2 separate regions of the Homo sapiens genome follow, and region 1 is linked to region 2. Evidence: fine-mapped expression QTL. Tissue or cell type: whole blood. Region 2 holds a variant in brackets; the other region holds the start of a gene. All regions are shown on one strand. Distances are between the middles of the regions.

Region 1 (8,086 bases), 67 kb before region 2:
TCCAGGCTCTCACTAGACCCTACTTCTCCAAGGGGACTGAGGTTGGGGTCTTCCCGAGGTAGAGAAGTGACCATAGGTAGACTGTGGACAGTGATCATCGATGTTGCTGGCAGTGGAGCTCCTCTGCTCTGACATTCTCTGTGTCCAGCACCTGCTTCAGGCCCCGCCCTGGGGGAGTGGGAGTCGCATGACAGTCCTAGCCTTGGGTTTGACTTTGGCCCCATCCACTTAGAGGCCATGGGAGAGGTAATTCTGAAAGCGCTTGTCCTTTGTGGTTGCCTGTCGTATCCTACTTGCCAGTGTCAACTTCTAATGCAGGGGTGTCGTCCCTTGGGACAGGCTGGGACGGGGACAACAAGATGTGGTCAAGACCACACAAGACTGTGGGACATGCTCAGGCTGGAGTGTGGCTGGGCCATCCAGCAGAGCCTCCTATTTCTCCCGGGCTAGAGAATGACCACAGGGTGCGGCGACCCCGGCACTGTTGAAAGCTGGGTGCTGGCTGGACACAGGGGGCCTCTGATGGACAGAGCACAATGAACGAGTTGCCCAGCAGGGTAGGGAGCTCAGGAGTGGCTGAGAGGCTGGCCACCTGCCCTCTGCAGCCTCCCACAACCCCCACTGGCAGCCTTGTGGGGCTGGAGAGGTCTGCCCAGACCCTCAGTCCCAACTGCAGATAAAGCCTGCGCTCCTCTACAGGGGTACCTCGGCATGCTTCTTGGTCCTGTCCTCTCCCTGCCCTTTCCCGACCCCAGCACCGCACTTGGGGGCGTCCCTTCTGAGGCAGCGGCTTCCTCACTCACCTTTCAGCTCTGGCCCCTGCCCCTCCAGGTCTCTCCCAGCCCCAGCCCAAGCCCCAGCCCCAGCCTGGGCCTGAGGTCATGGTCTGGACTGGGCACGTTGGGATGTGTTTTCCCAAGCAAACGAGGAATCATTGCACAATCTGAGTGGGAAACCAGTGGAGGGGAGCCCAGGACTAGTCAGTTGAGGCAAAGACATTCACTTTGGCATCTGCATTAATATAGTGATTTATTGCTCCTTTAGCAATGTCGGTTATGAAGTTCAAGGGGAGAGAGAAGAAATTGATGAAAACAGCGGCTCATCCGGGACCGTCTTCCTTCTCTGGTTTGTGCCTTGACTTCTTCAGAGCTTGGGCCTGAAGGCGTGAGCTCCATCTCATTCGCCGCTGGCACACTGGGCCACAAACGGCTCACTAGGTGCGCATCTCTGGAGGCTGCTGGGGGGCCCTTCCTCTTTCTCCCTGGTCGACGGCTTGCTGGGGAAGCCTAGGATGTCCGACTGCCTGGACATTTGCATTGCCAACCCCTCAGGTTTTGTCTCAGGCTGTCCCTCGGGCTGTGTCTGTTCCCCAGGCTCCAGCTTGGTGGCAGACCTCTTGGCAGAGCCAGGTTCAGGGGTCCACAAGAGTTCAGTTCCCTGGGAGCTTTCCCCCTCCTTGTTGAAGACCATAGAGGGCAGTCCCTGTGCCTTGGGCTGCACCCAGCATTGGCTGAGGGTGTCATGGATGTGCAGCCGCTGGCTGACGTCGGGCTGCAGCATGCAGTAGATGAGGTCCTTGCACTCGTCTGTCAGGTTCTTGGAGTGTGGGAAGTCCACGCGGTGCTCCTTCTGGATACGCAGCATCTTCCTGATGTTGGAGTCGTAAGGCATGGAGCTGCAGACCATGATGTAGAGGATCATGCCCAGGCTCCAGATGTCATACACCATGGGCTGGTAGGGGATGCCCTGCAGCAGCTCGGGGGCTGCATATGCCACCAACCCGCAGAAGTTCTTGCTTAATCTCTGTTGGCCACTGTCATCCCGCAGGCAGAGCTTGGAGAACCTGAAGTAGAACAGCTTGATGTTGAAGTCCTTGTCGAGGAGAAGGTTCTAACACTTGAGGTTCTGGTGCATGATGTCCAGGTCGTGGCAGTATTTAATGGCTGAGGAGAGTTGGTGGAACATCTTGCACGCCATGTCCTTGGGCAGGGCTCCCTGGCACTCAATGAACTAGTTTTTTTTCTGCCCCTGGCTGGGCTCCCAGGGCAGATCTGGGGCTGGGGGCTAAAGGCGGGGACTGGATGCCACCCTGAGCACTGGTGGCTGCTCTGAGGACAGTACAAGCAGCAGGGGCAGCACTGGAGAGTGTGGCCATTGTTTTTTCTGGCAGTGGAGCCCCTCTGCTGTGCCAGGCTCTGTGTCCAGCACTTGTTCCGGGCTATGCCCTAGGGGAGTAGGAGTCACATGACTATCCTAGCCTTGGATTTGACTTTGGCCTCATCCACCTAGAGGGAGTGAGCACCCCTTTCTCACAGGAGCCAAGTGGAACCCTGGGCCCCTCAGGATGACTTGGTAGGGCGGGCTGGTTGTCACTCATGTTGGGTTGGGTCCCCACCTGCCGTGGCCCTTCCCCCTTTTCTCTGCTCCTTCACCTTCTTCCCTAACGCTGACTGCCCACTGCCAGGCCTTTGTGCATTCTTGGTTCTCCTCCTTCCAGACAGCCTCCTTCTCCTTCCCGCTGGGGACACCCCAACTACTGTCTCCTGGAAACCAAAAATAAAACTCTAACCCCCCAGCCATCTGAATGGACCCCTCCTCTCCACCAAGGGCATTCCAAACTTAACCTGAAAAACTATTTCAGGCCGTGATAGGAAGTGGGAGTCAGGCCTCATTATCCCTCCTCCCTTCAGGTTTCAGGCACAGCTAAGCAGTGTAACATCGACACAGAGACTTGAAGACTGACAACAGACTCTGTGGCAGTAAGATACCAGCATGACAGCAGGCCCGGAAGGAAACACATATTTTACTGCAAAACAGGTTTCTTTCACATATTTTGAAGTCGCTCTGCAAAGCTGTTTTTTGTGGGGAAAATCTACATTCTGTAGAGAATCCCTATCCCTTTCAAGGTCTTTTCTCCTGAGAGAATTAACTAGAGTCTGGCACCTTTTATTTATTTTTCCTTTTTTTTTTCCTTTTTTTTTTTTTTTTTTTTGAGACAGAGTCTTACTCTGTTGCCCAGGCTGGAGTGCAGTGGCATGATCTTGGCTCACTGCAACCTCTGCCTCCCCGGTTCAAGCGATTCTCCTGCCATCAGCCTCCTGAGTAGCTGGGATTACAGGCGTGTGCCACCACGCCTGGGTAACTTTTGTATTTTTAGTAGAGATGTGGTTTCACCATGTTGGCCAGGCTGATCTTGAACTCCTGACCTCAGGTGATCCGCCCGCCTTGGCCTCCCAAAGTGCTGGGATGACAGGCGTGAGCCACCACACCCGGCAGAGTCTGGCACTTTTTAATAAGAAACATTAACAGTCTTTTCTCTGTGAAGCCTGATACCTGGAGGCTTCATTTGCCTAAGAAACTTGGTCTCCACAACCCCTTAATGTAGACAGTCCCTTTTATTGATTCCAGGTCTTTAGATAAACTCTTTGAACCAACTGCCAATCCGCATGACCTAGAAGCCCCCCTCCACCCCCCACTTTCAAGTTGTCCCGCCTTTTCCGACTGAACCAATGTATATCTTACATGTGCTGATTGATGTCTTGTCTCCCTAAAATGTATAAAACCAAGCTGTGGCCCTACCCCCTTGGGCACTTGTCAGGATCTCCTGGGGCTGTGTCCCAGGCTATTGGTCACATATTGGCTCAGAAGAAATGTCTTCAAATATTTTACAGAGTTGGACTCTTCGCCGACACTGCCCTCCAAGGTTCACCCTGTTGGTGATGACGGGAGAAGTGGCACTTGGAGCACTGTTCGCAGGGGCGCTGAGCCTCCTCTCTGCCTAGCTTTCTTTCCTGCACATGTGGCCTTCCCCTAGCCATTGTGTAGGCAGGTCCTCCAGGGAGCCGGCTTCGCTGCAGTCTCCAGGACCTGGCCTTCCCGGTCTCTCTTTGCCTGACACTCTCTTAGGCCATTCCTGTTCCTCTTTCCCCACCCTCAGAACCGGCAGGCCCTCCCTCCTCCACAGCGGTTCGGCCTTAAAAAGACCCCTTTGGGGCGCACTTTTGGGCTGCTCACGGGACCTGAGCTTGCAGGTGTGAAGACCCTTGGAGTCCCAGCCAGGTTCCCACTTCGTTCTCTCCGCTCCCCACCCGCGCGACCCCTCGGCGCCCCGCCCCATGCCCCGCGCCTTTCGATGTCCATCCTTGCCGTCCCGCGCCCGCCGTCCCTAACCGGCGTCCAGAGACCCTACTCCCTTCGGTGGCCCCGCCGCTCAGGCCCCGGCCCCGGCCCTGCCTCTCTGCTTAACCAATGGCACGCCTCACTCCGTATGGTCCCGCCCTTCCCTTAGAGCCCGCCCCTCAGTCCCCGCCCTTAGGTCCCCGCCCTCCGCCGTCGCGACCTTAGGCCTCACCCTCTTCGGAGGGCTTTGGCTCTGGCCCCGCCCCCCATCTTGACGGTCATTGGCCCGCGCCTGCGTCGCGGGCGGGAGGCGGGGCGGGGCGGCGCGGCGCGGAGCCGAGCAGGACGGCCGCCATCTTGCGCGCAGCTGGAGTCGGTGCCTGAGGTTGCAGCCGAGAGTGTGCGCCAGCCCGCGGCCCAGCCGAAGCTCTTTCCCGCCGCCTCTCCGCGCCTCGCCCAGGTTCAGCTCCGCCTGACCCTCCGCTTGGCACGGTCCCCTGACCCTCAGTCCGGCCTGGTCCGGCCTTCCAGCCGCCCCGGGGACGATGAACGGAGGATAAATGGTGCCCAAGGCAGACAGCGGCGCCTTCCTGCTGCTCTTCCTGCTCGTGCTCACTGTCACCGAGCCGCTGCGGCCAGGTGCGCCGCGCGATGGGGGCGGTGTGGGGGCTGGGCGGCGAGCGGGGCCGGGGTCGCCCCGGGACCTCCTTTCACCCGCGGCGCCCTCCTGCAGGGGCCGCGCCTGGGGCAGGGGCGGGCGGGGCCTGGCTCGCGGGCCGCCTGGCACTCTCTGCGGACGCCTGCTGGAGCTTACCTGGGCTCGCGGCGCCTCGGACTTCGTGCAGCTCTGCTGTCCAGGATGTTGCCTCTGGGCCCTTCCCGGGAGCGGCGGCGGCCAGGAGCTACGCCACGGGCGCACCCTCTCGCCAGTCCAGCGTCGGAGTCGGGCTGGGGACAGTGGCTCTCAGGGGCACCTGGTTTCACAGACGTCCTCCCAGCAGTGGCCTAGTGCCAGCCTCTCAGTCCTGGAAACTCCTCGCCTGGACAGCGGTGGTTGTGGCTGTCATTCAGTGAGACGTTGCGCTAAGGAAGTCCTCAGGTCCCACCGGGCCTAGAGGAGGCACCAGGAGTCAGCCTAGCGTTGTGTGGCCGGCGCGAGCGTCCCGGGAGCAGAGACCTCGCCACTGTGCGGGGCCCTTAGCCGTGCTGCGTGTATGTGATGAATGAGTCCGTGCTTTGGAACTCCCCTCGGAGCTAGTGTGTTCTTAAGTCTGTGGTGGGGAATCAGAACCGTGGCAACCAGGAGACCCTTTTCTACCTATTTCGGTGTACCTCCCCTTGAACTGCACCAAAAAATCAAACTCCCTAAATGCAGGGCCGATGTATCCATCAGGCACAGGAATCCTGGTATCACTTGCCCACGGTACTTTTAGTAGCCTTCGAATGTTATTTTATTTTTTTTTAAAGTCAGCAGAAAAAAAATGAACTTTTAGGTCAAATAAAATGTTTTCGTATGTATATTAATACAGTCATCTTTATACTAATACAGTGAAAAAGCATGACTCTTAATATTTCTTAATGGAGGAAAGGTCCCATGAAGGCAGAAGTGCCAGGGCCATCTTCTCTGATGACCTGGGTGTGGGAGCACGGGGTGTGTGGCCCTCTCCTGTGCCCTAGCCAGGCTCCCAGCCCAGATACACCGCACCTCTTGGCTCTGCGCTTGTGTCATCTATGTGGAATGTCTGCCTCCTCCCTAGTGCCTGCCTGGTGGCCAAGGCCCTGACCGGTGCTCAACCTGGACAGATTCAGTGATGCTTCTCTGGTCTCCCCATGTAGAGCTAGTTGCTCACTGCTTTTGGCTGCTCTCTGGGCAGCGGGATGACTAGTTGTGGGGTGGCCTTGGTAAGAACAGAAGCCAGGAAAAGGGCTACCTGTGGAGGAGGGTATCATATAGGCTCTTGGAGGTCAGAACCAATGGGTTTGTGGATTCTTGTGATTAACTTCTTTAGAAAACATATATGTACGTGTAGAGAGGTAGAAGGTCACCGTTTTCTGATTCTTGAGTCCCAGTTTTGCAGATGAGGTCACCGGGCTCAGGTGAGGCCATATTATGCCTGGCTTCTTTGGGGTGCCTCTGGTTCCAGGCCCAGCATCTCCTGCCTGGGTGATAGAGGTGACTGACGTCCCCGACTCCTTTTTCCTTGCCAGCCTTTTCACATAGCCTGCCAACTGGCCAGCAGCAACTGAGAAAGTGCCTGTGGGTGCTTGCCCCCTGCCCATCCCTAGGGAATCCAAGTGACAAGAACAAGCCCCTCCTTTTAGGAGTGCCTGATGTGGAACAGAGGCCAGGTGTAAGTCACTTGTCACACTCCTGTGTGTTGAATACCCTGGAGTGTGGGGTCCCAGAGGTGGGTGGAGGTGGCCATCTTTTTGTACCTGTGAAGCAGTGAGGGCGTCACAGGAGACCTCACACTGAGGTCGGAGTAGGGCATGGGTGGGGTGGATCTGGTAGAGGGAGCAAACTTATTCTTTCGATTCCATGACTCTCCAGATGAGAACATTGCAGCTACCCCTGGAGGCGTCTTGAGTTGCCCTGCAGAACCCGGGAGCTGCAGCTGGCTTCCTGGCTTTGGCTGGGCAGGGAGGGCAGGCCTCTGGGCCTGATGTGTTCCTTGTATGCCCGTGTGTGCCTCTTCACACATTCACCATGTGTCCTTCCTGAGAGTGCTGCAGGGATCTGCCTGGCTGGTGCTTGCAAGAGGCTGGGGCTTCTCTGGTCTTAGTCTGCGTTCTTTCTGTGGGGATTCCGGCCTTAAAAGCATACTTGAGTATGAGGAAGGTATCAGTCAGAGCCCACTTCTCAGGAGGGTGTTTTCTGACTCCTGCCTGGTGGGGTCCCTGAAGATGATGCCAAGCCACCTGGGCTTCCTCTCTGGTACAGGGCAGGGTGGAAGGCCTTTCATGGAGTTATGGGGCAGCAAGTGCTTGCTGTACTTGACCTTTCACCAATTTTTTTTTTTTTTTTTTTTTTGAGACAGAGTCCTGCTCTGTTGCTCAGGCTGGAGTGCAGTAGCGTGATCTTGGCCCACTGCAACCTCCACCTCCTTGGTTCAAGCGATTCTCCTGCCTCAGCCTCCCGAGTAGCTGGGATTACAGGCATACGCCTCCACGCTCGGCTAATTTTTGTATTTTTAGTAGAGATGGGGTTTTGCCATGTTGGCCGGGCTGGTCTGGAACTCCTGACCTCTGGTGAGCCACCTGCCTTGGCCTCCCAAAGTGCTGGAATTACAGGCCTGAGGTACCATGCCCAGCAATTTTTTTTTAAGTGCACATTTGAACTTGATTTAAGATGTGTCATGTGCCGGACACTGTTCTAAGCACTAACATATGTTAACTCTCAAGAGGTCCCTGCTAGATGCTGTTTTTAGCCTCATTTAAAGATGGGGAAGCTGAAATCCAGAGCACTCATGAAGCTAAGGCTGAGATGAGATTTCATCGTAGGAGTCTGGCCTTCCCCCCATCATGCACCCGTGACTGGGGTCTGTGCACTCCAACTGTGTGTCTCCAGCCCAGCCACAGGAGTACCTCATATTATGCTCTGAACAGCTTCCTTAACCCCAGGTGGAGCCACAGACTGCCTCTGTCCCCTGTTAGGTCCCAGGGTCCTCTAGGTGAGGGTGCAGAATCTTTTTCCATGTGGATACTCCAGTCTGAGGGACAGAACCACTCACCCTCTGCCAAATCCCTTCTGTGTTTGGCCATGTGACCACTGATGATGTGTGTTATGATCACTGGGGGTGTGATGAGGAAGAACGGTTGGAGACTACTGCTGAGGTAACTGACAGCGAGATGGTGGGGGGATTTGGGGACCACTGATTGTGATACTGTCTCATTGGCCCTTTCTCCATCTGTGTAGAGAAGGCAGCATCGACTGCTGATTCTAAAACTGTTTTTCTTTCTAGCTTTA
Region 2 (8,100 bases):
AGGGTCCTTCAGGAAGAGCGGGATGTTTGAGGTAAGGGGGTGTCCAGGAGGAAGTGGGAGGCCCTGGAGGAAAATCTGCAGGAGTCATCCCCAGTGCAGTATCGGGAAGCCTCCAGGCTCCTCTCACACCTTTGGAATATGTCCAGGATCTCATCACCTGGCACCAGTCTTGCAGCCCCCACCGGGATCTAACACCCAATCATCCGTCACCCGATTGTGCTCGTGGCCTCTGTCTGGTCTCCTGGCCCCAGCCCCACCGCTCCTCACACAGCTGCTGGGGGTCCTTTTCACCTCTGCTCCCTTGTTCACAGCTCTCGTTTCTCATAGAAATCACAGTTCCATCAAGGCCAGCAGCCCCTTCCTTCACTACCCTCATCACCTACCACTCCCCAGCCTCTTCTCCAGCCCCACAGGCTGCCTTGTTCATGGCTGCCACTGTGACCTCTTCCAGGGATGCTCCAAAGACGAACACCTGCCCGCTCTGCAAGGCTGCACCTCGGGTAGGCATGCAGTGCCCGCATGACCAGCCCCCATTCAGCACCTGGATGCAGAGCCACCAGCAGCTCCCCTGGGCAGGGGCGCTACACAGGTGCCCATGCAGCTTGCTGCCAGGAGGGAGCACTGTGTGGCTCTCTGGGCCCTGGCCTAGAGTGCCACACGAACCCTGTTTTGCTGGTTGCCTGACTCACTCTGACTTGCTGTGCCCCGGTCCAGGCAGCTTTCGTGGGCAAATGCTGGGTCCCAGGACTCTGCCCGGAGAGGTCATTTGTGTCCTTGGTCTCAGTCTGCTGTCATGTACTGTAGTTGTGGGCAGGAGCTCTTAGCTGGCAACTAGCTTCAGCGCTGAAGATTTTTTGTTTGTTAAAGATTGGAAGGAACCTGTTTGGTTTTCTTGCCACGGGACAAGAAGGCAAATAGTGAAGAAAACAGTGTTTAAAAGGGGAGGGGCTCTACTTAGGTGAGAAGGCATCTGTGGGAGATGAGGAGGGTGTGCAGGGGCTCGGGGGCCTGGAGGAAAGGTGGGGTGGTGCACAGCGTGATGGTGGTGGCACCCACTGTCAGCAGTGGAGACCAGCCCTCCAGGTGGTATGGGGAGGTGACTCCAGACAGTGGGCCCCTTTCCTGCTCTGCTGTGGGTCTGATAGATGCAGATGAGGCAGGCGAGATGCTGGGCCTGTATGTCCCTGGGAAGGGGGCACAGCTGTTGCTGTGGCTGCCTGCTGGCCTGGCACAGGTCTTGCAGGTCTCAGAGCTTCCTGAGAGCTGTCCTCCTGCCCATGGCAGGGCACCATGTGTCCACAGGCCCACAGCATAGGCCTGCCTCCAGACTCACTGGCTTTTTTGAGGCAGAGCCCCATGTTTCGTGCTGGGTATAAACAGAGCTCCAAAAGACGCAGGTGAGAATGCTGGAGGCTTATAAATGGGGTGAGCTGCACTGCTGCTGTCTTAGGAGGGGGAGAGCACCAGGTGTGCCTTCATTATTCTGCTTCTTGGAAAGGTTGCTTTGTGTTTCCATTGATCCTGGTCGGGTAAGCCTCAAGGAATCTTGGCAGCCCAGACTGGAAGGGCCGTGCAGGGGAGAGAGTGGGGCCTAGGGCTGGCTGTGCCATGCCCTGGGCATGGCCAGAGCCCACCTGGAACCTTGCAAAAGAGAGGCTTGGAGGTTAGCAGTCCCCAACCCTCACGCTCTCTGCGGCAGGGGTACACGGTTTCTGACTGCCTTGTGCCTGGCTTAGGCAGGAGCTGAGTGGGTGACAGTTTCCCTTGAGCTGAGAGAGGTCCCCGGGAGCCAGTGCTTCCTAAGTGTTCCCTGCAGCCAGCTGCTGGCAGTGCCGGCCAGTGCCAATGCTGCCTGACGGCGCCTTTCTCCTGGGTGTTGGGTGGACTTTGTAAGTCTTCTGTTTATCTGAGTGTGCTGTCCTAAGGGAGAGCTTCCCTGCCTGTTTCCCTTGCCCATTCCCCTGTTTGCATTTTAATCCAGTGTGCCACAATCCATTACTTTGTTATTATGCTGTTGCTCTAACTTTAAATGCCACCCACTAACCGTGATCCAGCACCCTCTTCTGGTGCTCAGGCTGGCACTTACTGCTACCCAGGGTTTGTGGCCTGTGTGCTTGCAGGCTCCAAGGAGTGGCTCCCGCTAGGCCCAGCACCTGGGGTGACTCCCAGGAGGTTGGGGAGTCCCGAGTGAACACCTGGCCACAGTGACCACCAGTACTTGGCGGTCCAGGCCCTGTGGTTGATGATCCTGTCTGACGCCATGGTCCCCTTGAGGACTGCACAGCTTGTCCTCTGATGTGATGTTGTCCAGCCCCACCTTTTGTCTCCCCAACAGGCTCTTCAGAGGTGTTCCTGCCCCCAGACCCCATCTTTGCCTCGGCCATGTCTGAGAACGACAACGTGTTCTGTGCCCAGCTTCAGTGCTTCCATTTCCCCACCCTGCGGCACCACGACCTCCACAGCTGGCACGCCGAGAGCTGCTACGAGAAGTCTTCATTTCTGTGTAAAAGAAGTAAGCCCCCTTGAGCTGGCGTTCTTGGGGAATGTCTGGGCCCTTGTGTCACTTTGTTGGACCCTGAGTTCAAGGTTTCGGAGGCAGAACCTGATTTGCAGTGTTGCGGTGGACGCCCCTTACCAGCTCACACCTTGTTCTTGGGGCCCATTTGCAGCTCTGTGACCAGGGCAGCTGGTCAGCATCTTAGAGCCCACGGAAGCATCTTAGAGCCCAGCTTCTTTTCCCACGGAAGAGACAATCATCCCTGTCCTCCCTGTTGCAGTGTTGTTAAGAGAGTAAATGGGAATGAGGACCCAAGGACTTGGCATCTCTGGAGCATCTAAGGCTGTTTGTCACCTCCCCACCCCCCATTTCTGCCATCCTTCTCTCTGCTTCTCTGCTTCTCTGTTTACCTTGCCAGTCTATGGTGTGTGTGTTTTTTTTTTTTTATTAAAGCCAGCTAACTCTATTGCTTTTGGGGGACAGGGGTCTCAGGAGCTCTTGGTGGGGCAGGTCCCCTTCCTCTTCACCATCACAGGCTTCTGGCTTCGCAGGATGGCGCTGGCTCTGGGATGGCAGCTGTGCGCAGGTTGGGGAGAGGCTTTGTTCTTGCGGATCATGTGTGTGATGTTGCCGAGCATGGTGCAGGCGTTCTTGTTGACGGTGGTCCTCTTTTTCTTTTTTTTTTTGGGACAGAGTCTCGCTCTGTTGCCCAGGCTGGAGTGCAGTGGCGTGATCTCGGCTCACTGCAAGCTCCGCCTCCCAGGTTGAAGCGATTCTCCTGCCTCAGCTTCCTGAGTAGCTGGGACTACAGGTGCCTGCCACCACG[C/T]CCGGCTAATTTTTTGTGTTTTTAGTAGAGGCGGGTTTCACAGTGTTAGGATGGTGTCGATCTCCTGACCTCGTGATCCGCCCACCTCGCCCTCCCAAAGTGGTGGGATTACAGGTGTGAGCCACCGTGTCCACCCGACGGTGGTCCCCTCATAGGAGGTGGCTGGCTTCTGCTGGCCGGATCTCCACTCCATGACCACCACCACACCTTTGCCATCAGCTGCCGGGTCCACACCCACAGTCCTGCAGTGAATCAGCTCGTTGTAGTGGAAGGAGCTGCAGCCTTTAAGTTCTCAGGCTCAGTGCTGTGGGTCTGCTTATTCCCCTTGATCAGGCCGGATGATTCCTCGCGACCATCCATTGCAGATGTGCGGCCGGGGCGGCAGCTCCTCCCAGGTGGCTGGCAACAGAGAGAGCTTCATGATAAATCTTGACTGCTGGTGTTACGACTTCCTCTGCCTTGTTCTTGCCTGTTATGTTGCCTATTTTTGACCCTTTTCTATGTGAATTTTAGGATATGTTTTCTAAACTCCTTTATTGGTTCTCTTAGTTTGTGGATTTTGTTGATTTTCTATTTAGATGGGTTTGTTTCTTCTTTCAAATCTTTGACATTTATTTATTTATTTACATTTATTAGAGATGTGGTTTCACTATGTTGCCCAGTCAACTCTTCTTGCTACAGTCTCCAGGACAGTGATGATTAGAAATGGTGGTAGTGAGCATTCTTGTCTTCTCAACTTAGAATGCTATTTTAATGTATCAATATTCTACAGAATGCCTTCTATAGGATTTTAGAATGTACCTGTATGAAGTCAAAGAAGTACCTATTCCTAGGTTGCTGGGAATATTTGTGTTACAAAAGTGTACTGATTTTTATTAAATGCTTTTAGTGGATTTTATTGGGGTTATGTAGTTTTTCTTCAGTCTGTTCAGTCATTATTTCATATAAATGGATTTTCTTATGTTAAACCATCCTCATGGTTTATATATATATAATATATTATATTGGTGGATTTGGTTTGCTGATATTTAGAATTTTTGAAACTCTTTGTTGTTTTTTGAGACAGAGTCTTGCCCCGTCACCCAGGCTGGAGTGCAGTGACGTGATTTCAGCTCACTGTAACCTCTGCCTCCCGGGTTCAGGCAGTTCTCTTGTCTCAGCCTCCTGAGTAGCTGGGATTACAGACATGTGCCACCACGCCTGGCTAATTTTTGTATTTTTAGTAGAGATGGCGTTTCACCATGTTGGTCAGGCTGGTCTTGAACGCTGGTCTTGAACTCCTGACCTCAAGTGATCCACCTGCCTCAGCCTCCCAAAGTGCTGGGATTATAGGTGTGAGCCACCGTGCCTGGCCTGAAACTCTTTTAAGAAGTGAGGTTGGCCTGTTACATTTTTTTCTATACTCTCCTTGACTCTCTCTTTTTTTTTTTTTTAAGGTGGGGCATCACTGTGTTGCCCAGGCAAGAATGCAGTGGCTAATCACAGGCACGATCATAGCACAGTACAGTCTTGAACTCCTAGGCTCAAGTGAGCCTCCTGCCTCAGCCTCCCAAGTAGCTGGGACTACATTGACTCATTTCTGTATTATACTATATTAGTTTTCTAAAATGAGTTGGCAAACATTTTATTTTACTGTTCTCTAAATCCATTTGTCCAAGTTGGAGATAAACTTGTCTTTGAGTGTTTGATAGAACCACCTTATAGGACCATCTGGGTCAGGCGAGGGAGACTTCTGTAACTTGTTAATTTAGGTATAATTTCAAGCTTATGGAAAAGGCAGAATAATACAAGGAACTTCCTTTCATACACCATTTACACAGACTCACCAGTTACAGTATTTCAGTTTTACTGCATTTGCTTTATCATTCACTTTCTCTACATGTTTCTTCTGAATCATTTGGGAGTAAACTGAAGATACTGTGGACCTTAATTAAGCGTTTTATACTTCAGTGTGTATTTCCTAAGAACAAGGACACTTTCTTATGTACCCACACTATATGGATCAAAATCAGAACACTTAGCATGGATACAGTACCATACAGTAATCCACAATCCATTATTCCAGTTTTATCAGTCGTTCCAATAATATCCTTTATAGCTATTTTTTTCATTGTCCAGAATCATGCATTGCATCTAGTCATCATGTCTCTTGGATTCTTTTAGTCCTTCAGTTTGAGTAATTTCTGTTGACCTGTCCTCAGGTTTACTAATTCTTTCCTTGGCTATGTCAAGTCTGCTTATGAGCCCATTGAAGGTATTCTTCATCTGTTTCATTGATTTTGTCTGTTTTTTTATTTATAGGATTTCCATTTGATTCTTATAGATTCCATCTCTCATCTGAATTTCCCATCTAACCTTGTATATTGTCCAGCTTTTCCACTGGAGCCTTTAACAAATTAATCGTAGTTATTTTAAATTCCCTGTGGGGAAGTTCCTTCATCTGTGTCATATTTGAGTCTGGTTTTTTGATTGTTTTGTCTCTGGAGCATGGTACTTTTTTCTAGGCTTTTCATTGGAACTCTGACATCTTGTGTGGGACAATAGAGACTGAGTTCAGTAGTTTTGTGCTTGCAGTGGCTATGCCTTTACTTCCACTAGGCCTTTCTTGTGGGGAGGTCTTTAGTACAGTGCAGGGCGTTGATCTGGGCGAGAGTTGGGCTGGGCTTGGGGTTTGTTGGCACTGTAGTTGCCCTCAGTGCACCTCAGGCTTTCGTATTTAGCAGCATTGTTGTTCTGGGTGGAGGCTGGTTTGCCAGAGGGTTTTTCTTAATGTCTGCTCCACCCTCTACTTGAGGTCATCCCTTTGGGCTACATCTCTAGAGTCTGTCTTTTGCAGCCCGCCTAGCAGTAGTCCACTGTGTGACTCAAGGCTTGTTAGCATGCTGATAGTAGGGTCTGATGTTCTAACTGTATCTGAGCCTTAAGCAGGCCCAGTGCCCTGAGGATCCAGGGTGGAGCCTTCACAAGTGCTTCTGACCCTCCTGCAGCTGGAGTTGGGTCCAGCACAGTGGCTTTTCACCAGGGCCCTAAAGGCTCCAGGTATGCTCTGATTAGAGGCAGCCTGACTAGAAGCAGGGCAGTGGAGGTGATTGGTTTGGGGAACATATTTGACTTTCCCTGGTGGGTTTCCAGTTGGAAGTATGGACTCAAAATAGAGAAGCTGGTGGCCACTGGCCAGATCCTGACTGCCCTAGACTGGTTGCTACAGAAGTGGTAGGTCAGAGGCCTTTGGTCATATGTGGTCTGGCCTTTGTCAGGTATCATCATGAGGCAGAAATGTTCTATAAATGGAATCATATAGTTGCAACCTTTTGGGGTTGGCTTTTTTCACTCATAATTCCCTGGAGAGTCATCCAAATTGTTACTTTTATTAATGATTTGTTCCTTTTTTTTTTCTTTTTGGCGACAAGGTCTCTGTCACCCTAGAGTACAGTGGTGTGATCACTGCTCACTGCAGCCTCAACCTCCCAGGCTCAGGTGAACCTCCCACCTCAGCCTCCCGAGTAACTGGGACCACAGGTGCATGCCACTGTGCCCAACTTATTTTTGTATTTTTTTTTTTTTTGTAGAGGCGGGATTTCGCTATGTTGCCCAAGCTGGTCTCAAACTATAGGCCTCAAGTGTTGAAGGACATCTGGGCTGTTTCCAGTCTTTGGCTATTACAATGAAAACTGCCGTGAACATCCGCATACAGGTTTTTGTGCAAACGTGTTTTCTTTTTTCTTTTTTTCTTTTGTGTGTGTGTGTGTGTGTGTGTGTGAGACAGAGTCTTTCTCTGTTGCCCAGGCTGGAGTGCAGTGGCACAGTCTTGGCTCACTGCAGCTTCCGCCTCTTGGGTTCAAGCGATTCGCATGTCTCAGCCTCCCGAGTAGCTGGGATTACAGGCATGTGCCACTACGCCCAGCTAATTTTTGTCTTTTTAGTAGAGATGGGTTTCACCATGTTGACCAGGCTGGTCTTGAACTCCCAGTCTCAGATGATCCACCTGCATCGGCCTCCCAAAGTGCTGGGATTACAGGCATGAGCCACCACGCCTGGCTGCAAATGTGTTTTCACTTCTGTGTGATAGATGCCCAGGATTACAGTTGCTTGATTGTATCGTAGTTGCAGGTTTAGTTTTTAAAGAAACAAGCAAATTGTTTTCCAGAGTGGCTGTACTATTTTATAGTCCCACTATCAACGTAGGAGTGATTCAACGTAGGAGTGATTTAATTTCTCCATATCCTCCCCAGCGCTTACTGTTTTCACTATTTTTCATCTTAGCCCTTCTGTTAGGTATGCAGATATGTATGTAGACCTGTGGCTCCTTATGGTTTCAATTTGCATTTCCCTGAGGCTACTGATGTTAAAACCTCTTCATGTTTCATGTGCTTATTTGCCATCTGTATATTCTCTGTTGTTCACATTATTCTTCCGTTTTCTCTTTGCATCGTTTGTTCGTTTTGTTTTGAGAAAGGGTCTTGCTCTGTCACCCAGGCTCAAACGCAGTGGTGCAATCATAGTTCACTGTAACCTCCAGCTCCCGGGCTCAGGCAGTCCTCCCACTTCAGTCTCCTGAGTAGCTGGAACTGTAGGTGTGCACCGTCATGCCTGGCTAAGTTTTTTATTTTCTATAGAGATAGGATCTCACTATGTTGCCTAGGCTGGCTTCAAACGCAACTCCTAGGCTCAAGTGATCCTCCTGTATTGAGATTACAGGTGTGAACTAATGATCTGTTTTGTTCTTTTTTAAACTGTGGAGTTTTGAGAGTTCTTTATGTATTCTAGATACCAGTCC

What was found. PIP is the estimated chance that this variant, and not a neighbour inherited with it, causes the effect.
Region 1: it holds the start of DGCR2, and the variant in region 2 is fine-mapped to the expression of DGCR2 in whole blood (TOPMed, PIP above 0.99).

The regions. Positions count from the first base shown.
Region 1 is chr22:19,118,800-19,126,885 of GRCh38, reverse strand. It overlaps DGCR2 (DiGeorge syndrome critical region gene 2), which reads left to right and starts at 4,474. Exons shown (of 10, transcript NM_005137.3): 1 at 4,474-4,758. The coding sequence starts at 4,680. It also overlaps the pseudogene TSSK1A. RefSeq lists silencers at 4,150-4,589, 4,710-4,829 and an enhancer at 4,614-5,115.
Region 2 is chr22:19,051,398-19,059,497 of GRCh38, reverse strand. It overlaps DGCR2 (DiGeorge syndrome critical region gene 2), which reads left to right. Exons shown (of 10, transcript NM_005137.3): 6 at 2,336-2,512. It also overlaps the pseudogene RPL28P6. Among named protein-coding and RNA genes, the nearest start is that of DGCR11, 7.1 kb to the right of the region's middle. The variant C/T (reference allele first, on the strand shown) is at 3,324.